2 linked regions of the Homo sapiens genome follow. The protein of the gene in region 2 interacts with the protein of the main gene of each other region in a pairwise test. Each region holds a gene or a part of one and is shown on either strand. Other genes may lie near its edges. The genes, in order: PFKFB1 and VWC2.

What was found.
Region 1: the proteins of VWC2 (region 2) and PFKFB1 interact in binary tests that used the Homo sapiens proteins (3 or more experiments, as listed by UniProt).

The regions. Positions count from the first base shown.
Region 1 is NC_000023.11:54,983,977-54,987,799, reverse strand, and holds part of PFKFB1 (6-phosphofructo-2-kinase/fructose-2,6-bisphosphatase 1), read left to right. Parts: intron 1-3,823. UniProt on the Homo sapiens protein: Synthesis and degradation of fructose 2,6-bisphosphate.
Region 2 is NC_000007.14:49,800,963-49,804,785, reverse strand, and holds part of VWC2 (brorin precursor), read right to left. Parts: intron 2,076-3,823; coding exon 1,946-2,075; intron 1-1,945. UniProt on the Homo sapiens protein: BMP antagonist which may play a role in neural development. Promotes cell adhesion.

The sequences.
Region 1 (3,823 bases), on a different chromosome or scaffold from region 2:
GTTGGTTTTATCATGAAGGGGTATTTAATTTCCCAAATGCTTTATCTGTGCCTATTATGATGATCATTTGGTTTTTTTGTCCTTAATTCTATTGATGTGATCTGTTGCATTAATTGATTTTCAAAGGTTAAATCAAGCTTGCATTCCTATAATAAATCTAACTTGATTGTGATGTAAAAAGTATAAGTATAATATATACATATATATAATGTATACATATAAATCCTTTTATACATTCCTGGGTTCAGTTTGCTAGTGTTTTGTGGGGATTTTTACATCCATATTCACAACAGCTATTGGTCTATAATTTTCTTTTCTTCTAATATATGTGCCTAACTTTGGTAGCACGGAAATACTGGCCTCATAGAATGAGTTGGGAAGTGCTTCTTCCTCTTCTACTTTTTGAAAGAGCTTTTGAAGAATCGTATTATTCTTTAAATGTTTGTAGAATTCACCAGTGAAACCATCTAATCCTGGACTTTTCTTTCTGGCAAGGTTTTTCATTACTTATTCAACCCCTTGTTATAGATCTATTTAGATTTCATTTCTTTTTTAGTCAGTTTTGAGAGTTTGTATCATTCTAATAATTTATCTATTTCACCTAAGGCATTTATTGTGTTGGCATACAGTTTATGATTGTTCATAATATTCCCTTATAATTCTTTTTATTTTCATAAAGTCAGTAGTAATGTCTCCTCTTTTTTTCCTGAATTTATTAATTTGAGTTTTCTCTTTTTTTTCTTGGTCAGTCTCACTAAAGGTTTGTCAAGTTTATTAATTTTTTCAAATAACCAACTTTTGATTTTGTTGATTTTTTTCTAATGTTTTCCTAGTCTCTGTTTTATTATTTTCACCTCTAATCCTTATTATATCCTTCTTCTGTTTCCTTTAGGTTCCCATATTTGTGAATTTCCCAAAGTTCTCTCTGTTATTAATTTTTTATTTTACTCCATTATGATTGGAGAACATACTTTATATGATTTCCATTCTTCCAAATTTATTGAAGCTTCTTTTATGGCCTAGAATATTGTCTCTCTTGGAGCATGTTTGATGTACACTTTGGAAAAATGTATAGTCTGCTGTTTGGAGATGGAGTGTTTTACAGATGTTTGTTATTACTACTTTGTGTTGAAGTCCTCTATTTCCCTGTTGTTGATCTTCTATGTAGTTGTTCTATCCATTATTGAAAGAGTGGTCTTGAAGTTTCCAACTATTGTCAGTGGATTGTCTATTTCTCCCTTCAATTCTGCCAGTTTTGCTTCATGTATTTGGCAGCTCTGTTGTTTAGGCATATACGTTTATACTTGTGATATATTCATTATGGATTGACCCTTTTGTCATTATTGAATGTCCCTATATATCTCTAGTAATGTTTTTGAACATCCATTTTGTCTCATATTAGTATGGTCACTCCAAATTTCTTGTGGTTGTTGTTTGCATGATGTATTACTTACGTTATTTTACTTTTAATCTATTTGCTTCTTTCTCTTTTTTCTTCTTTCTTTTTTAGAATAGAGATGGAGTCTCACTATGTTGCCCAGGCTGGTCTCAAACTTCTGGACTCAAGGGATCCTCCCACCTTGGTTTCCCAAAGTGCTCGGATTATAGGCGTGAGCCACCAGGCCTGCCTTGTATCTTTCAGTCTAAAACCTATCTTCTGTAGGCAGCATGCAGTTGGATCTTGTTTGTTTGTATTCAGTTAGATATTCTCTACCTTTTGATTGGGTTGATTAATCTGTTCTGATTTAAAATCATTATTGATATAGTTGGTTTAAATATGCAGTTTTATTTTTCCATAGAGCTCATGTCTTTTTCTCTCTATTCTTCCTTTACTGCTTTCTTTTGCATTAAATGAATTATTCTAGTTTAACTTTTTAATTCATTTGATCATTTTTTATTATATATTTTTTAGGTATATTCTTCGTGGTTGTTCTAGGGCTTTTCACATACATCATACATCAGTGTGCTTCAGATTTGTACTAATTTAATTTCAATGAGATATAAAAATTTTACTCATATATAGCTCTCTTTCACCTTCCTTTTTGAGCTATTATAATATATATATTATATCTGTATATGCTAAAAACTAAATAATACATCATTATAAGTATTATTTTATATAATTTTATGTTTTAAGGAAGCTGAGAAAATTAAGGAGAACATGTATGTATTTATTATTTTCTATTATTTTCATTTGTTCCTGTGGGTTTGAATTACCTTCTGGTATCATTTCCTTATTTCTATATAACTCTTTGCTTTGTGACTTGGCTAGGCTATTTTTAAAGTATGTTTCCCTGCAGTGTGAACCCTTCAGTGTTGCTTCTTGGAGTGCATAGTTTTTGGCTTGCAGGTAATTTGGGCTTTCTTTGACTTTTTCCCAGTCTCTCTATTAAGCTGTCAGCCCACATGGGGGTATTACACTCTAGGCTCCACTAATTACTAGCTGAATGCTGTATTTTGTTTTTGTTTTTTGTTTGTTTGTTTGTTTGGCAGTGTCCTGAAGCATGCATTGCCCAGCAGCCTTATCTAATTAAACTCTAGCAGGAGTAGTTTGTGAAGTAAGTCTTGGAGGTTTCTTCATACCCCAGAAGGGCTCTTCTTACCTGTCCCTCTCTCTCTTGTTCTCTCTGATGAACAAGCTGGCCTATGTTGCTGTTAGTTAAGTGAACTTGTAGTTTTTGAGAACATCCTTGGGCTTGAGCTTCTTTGTACTATGTTAAAAATAAAGTTAGTTTTGGGGGGAGAGTTTCAGAGCTCTCTCATCTTATGAATTTCTTCTCTCCATGGGTATACTGTCTGAGCACTGTTCTGGGTGCTGGGCGAGACAGCAGCTTCTGGTCTTAGTTTGCCTATCCTGGTGTGGAACCTACCCTGTGAGCAAGATGGAATGAGGGTAATCAGGACCTCAGTATTCTTAGCCTATTGCACCTGGTATATAGCCTCCATTCTATGAGTAAAAACTGGGAGGAGGAAGGGATCCTCCAACCTCTTAACCACACTTGCCAGGAATTTAGCCTCTGCAATTCTGAGCTGAAGGGAATGCTAAATGCTAGCTCTCTGCTCCTTCCAGTAAGATGCCAAAGTATTGATGGGACATTCTCTCCAAGACGAAAGGGAGCTTCATCTTGGCTATACACACCTTAAGTGGAGCTTCTATCAAGCTAAGCTTGGAGCCAGTAGTGAGGGGACAGTAGTAAGGTCGGGAACAGTAGCATGGCACATGTATCAAAGACTGTGTTCTTACCACATTTCAGTAGATTTTCTTGAATAAAAATATCTTCATGTACTGTATTCCATTAAGACAATTTCCAGAGATTTTAAAAGGTTGTTGTGTTGTAATTTTGCCAGCTGAGCTTGTTTTATTAGAGAATGGGTCTTTAGAGCTCCTCATGCTGTCATGCCAGAAATGAAAGTCTCAAGATTGTCTTTGTGTGTTGATCTTGTATCTTGCAGCCTTGATGAACTCACTTGTTAGTTCGAGGAATTTCTGTAGTTTAGGGGGATATTTCTATGTAGACAATCATGACATTTGCAAATAGGGATTTTTTAAAAATTATTTTCCAAACCGTATGCCTTTTATTTCCTTTTATTGCCTTATTGCAGTGGTTAGAACTTCTAGTACTATGTCAAAAGAGTGGAGAAGGTGGAAATCCTTACATTAGTCCTGATGTTAGGGGGAAAGCATTTAGTCTTTCACTTTTAAGTATAATGTTGGTGATAGTTTTTGTTTGCTTTATAGAAGTTTCTTATCAAGTTGAACTTAAACAAATTTACAAGAAAAAAACAACCCTATTAAAAAGTGGGCAAAGGACATGAACAGACA
Region 2 (3,823 bases):
AAGACAGAGGGCCAAAGAAAGAGACAAAGCAAATACGGCAACGTGTTAGCAACAGGTGTAGCTAAAGGTATACAATTGTTCACTGGACAGTTATTTCAACTTTTCTGTAGGTTTGAAATTTCTCTAAAAGCAAGAAAAAAAAATCCAGGGGTTGAAATCCTGTCTTCTCACCTATTGTTAACACTCAAGCTAGGATTCCCGGCTATCTAATGCCAAGACTTAGTCTATAATCAAAATTTACAGGAAAAACATGGAATATCTTGGGTAGTTAAGACGCCAAATATTTAAGCAACCCATATTTAAGCCATTCACTAAACCCCTTGACGCAGTGAGAGTTGTTGTCGTCCAGTACCCCCGACATGCAGGGCACATGGCCTGAGCGCCAGCCCTCAGCTCTCCCAGCAGACCAGAGGCGCTCACTCGGGCTCCTCAGCGGGTGTGCTGAAAGCCACACCGAGACTCTGCCAGATTCTCCATCTGCCTCTCCTTCCCCAATCCCAGAGTCTTCTTCCCCCTTTATTAGTGTTAATTAGTGGTAATTAACACTAGTAGAGTAAACTGTATTGATTTCCCTCCATCTCACAGCTGGTGTCTCAACATCATTTTTTTTTTTAAAAAAAAAACACACTCCATGCTCAAAGTCCCCCTCGTTCTTGTCTAATGGAATCCTACCTCAGGATTTCTTCATAATTAACATGCACAAGAGACCAGCCAACCCTATATAAAGTACACTCTGTGACATCTTTGTTTTAACACTGTCCACTTGCCTTTGGAGGACTGGATGTACTATGCTACAATGATTATGACATTCCTAACACAGTCATCTTGTTCTTTCAGGTCTATCCTTCAACAGCAACATCATTCCCTCTTCCAATTATTTACCTCAAGAGTTTTACAATGTGTTGTAGTAAAATCTGGATATGTACAGGTACGTGGTCGAAGGTACCCATGGAACCTCATGGCCCGCACAATTTCGACTGTCATGACAGACTCTGGGAATTGTCTGAGCACCATGACCACCCCTGTGTCACCATCCACCAACACATGCCTGCCACATACCAAACCCATGCCACACAGCTATCAAGCCTCGGTCCAGCAACCCACATGAACGGCCGACAGCATCACAAGTTAGCTCTGAATGCTCTCAACCAGGGGTCCCCACAGCATACCCTGGGCAACATCCAGAAAGCCCAGTCGCTCCTGTCAGCGAGGCCACTCAGATCCTTGTAGACTCCGGCTGTGTCCCCTCTGTCCGCTGTTTCCCAAGCTCTGCTCAGCCTCTTGTCAAACTGCCCTCCGGGCCATAATTCTCAGGCCCAGCCAGCCTGGGTATGCACTCTTGTCAAAAACCGTCTTATAGTGTAATGCCCTCAGTACCTCAGGTACAGAGTAATCATCGTTTGTCAGGATGAGGAAACACTCTCCCATGACAAATTAGGATCAAGGACATCCTGCCACTTCATTTTCATAAAGTAAGCAAGGCTTCTGATCTACCAGGGGCTCTCACTGGGAATAGGAAGGGACTCTCTTCCTGCCTAATTTGCTTATGAAAAATATTCAATTATGTTCCAAGTTTCATTCACTTAGTAATGAAAAGTAAATGAGCCCAACCAGTGTGTTTAATGTGTCTTGGAAAGATAGAAACAGCTTTGCAAGAACAAACAAAGTTAAATTAAAATAAGTGACTCTCCTCAAAGGTGGAAATTGAATTTCTCCCCAAAGAACTTCTTAACATCCATAAAACATGGTGCTGATGCCAGTAAGAGAGAGAAGGCCTTGCTACAGAACCACTGTGGCTGAAAGATTACACACGTGTGTACGCATGTGTATTGATACATAGGATGAAACTCACGTATCCGTATGTGTCCCGTCTACCATGAAGCAGCACATGGGTTGTGCATCAGGGTGGGAGGTGCACCCCGTCACCAACGGGGATCTCACATACCATTTTTGCAGATGGGACAGCACTGATCAGGCTCGTACACAGGGTCCACACACTCCGTCTGGGGACACGCTGACACTGTGCATAGCACCTCACCGTTGGCTTCACAGCGACACCTCTCGCATGGAGACACCTGAAACACAAGCCCACAATCAGCACTTTAGCCTGCTGTCATGTTTATCCTACAGGGTCATATATATTTTTTTGAAATGGAGTCTCGCTCTGTCGCTCACACTGGAGTGCAGTGGTGCGATCTCGGCTCACCGCAACCTCTGTTTCCCGAGTTCAAGCGATTCTGCTGCCTCAGCCTCCTGAGTAGCTGGGATTACAGGCACCCACCACTATGCCTGGCTAATTTATGTGTTTTTTATAGAGATGGGGTTTAACCATGTTGGCCAGGCTGGTCTTGAACTCCTGACCTCAAGTGATCTGCCCGCCTCAGCCTCCCAAAGTGCTGGGATTACAGGAGTGAGCCTGGCCCTACAGGGTCATACTTTTCTTTCCCTAAACTTTCTGCGAAGACACCTAAGTGTTTTAGGAATGTTTAAAAAATGATCCAGCCCAGTGGTTTTCAGAGTGTGGACACAGGCATGCTGGGTGTTTGGTGAGTTGTCTTAGGTGCAAACGCACAGGACGGGCCACAGGGCTATGATGTTCCCTCTCCTGTCCAGCCAGAGCCACTGTTTAATTTGTGGTCTGCATATTGGGTTTCTTATTAAACTTTTTTTTGAAGAAATGTTTTTCATCTCTTTAAAAATTAAACAAATAAAAACTTGCTGCTGAGTTCTTGCCCATCCCCTCACCACGTAGGTGAATCCCTTGTCTATAACCCTGTCAAGTCACCACCCAGACTCACATGGAACACTCCCAGTGTTTCCAGTTACGAAGACACTGGAATAGGAAAGGGGAAAGGGGTGAAGGAGGAGAAACAGGGTGGCATCCAAGCGGGGCCAAGGGCCGGGAGCTCTATGAATATTCCCTCACTGAACTTTTACAGCAGCGCTAAAATACACGTACTCAAATTACTGACCCTTTGTACTAACAGGAAACTGAGACTCAGAGGTGTTAGGCAACATGCCATGGGCATGTCTGTCCTGTGAGCACAAGGTCCTCTTCCACTGAGGGCTCCTGACTGCGAGTCCATGGTGATTCCAATTTCCTCCAGGTCATTCTGCCCACTATCCAGCATCACGATGCTCTGTTAGAAACCAAGCTTCCATTTGCCTCTCTCTACTTTCCAGCCATGGGCTCATACTCTGCCTTCTTGAGCTATCCAAATCAAGCATACCAGCCATTCCCAAGAAAGCTGTACGTGGCTAACGGGACCCTCCATGGTCACTCACACAGGGCATGGTGATTTATCTCCTGGTTACCACCAATGGAGTGATTTTTGATCTGGCTGACCCAGGACAAAGCAGGAAGAGCATATGCAGACCCAGCCATCAGAAGCAAAACTGGGAAGTGGGGATACTCACTAGAAAGACCATGGAAATGGGGGACATGGAAATGGGTCGTATCAAGCTGAGTTCCTGCTTTGCCAGGGGCAGGGAGACCCCAGTTGAGTTGTGTGCCCCACGTCCATGATACAAATACCGCTTGTAAGGTAAAGAACATGAGTAACTCTCACAGATGCTCCCTTTGTCTATACAATGCAAACACTAAAAACTGAAATCTCCACTGAGTGGACTGGCTATTACGAGAAGCAAAAGCTCAACTGGAGTTTAACCATGTCTCTTTCTGAGGCACTAGACCACAGTCAACCTGCCTGGGAGTGAGGGCTAAGGAGTGTGTGTATGTGTACTTGGCCAAAAAAATGTAAAAAAGAAAGGAAACTTTGAAAAACTTTAGTGTAGCCTGAGACAAAACACTGACCTGGTTGGC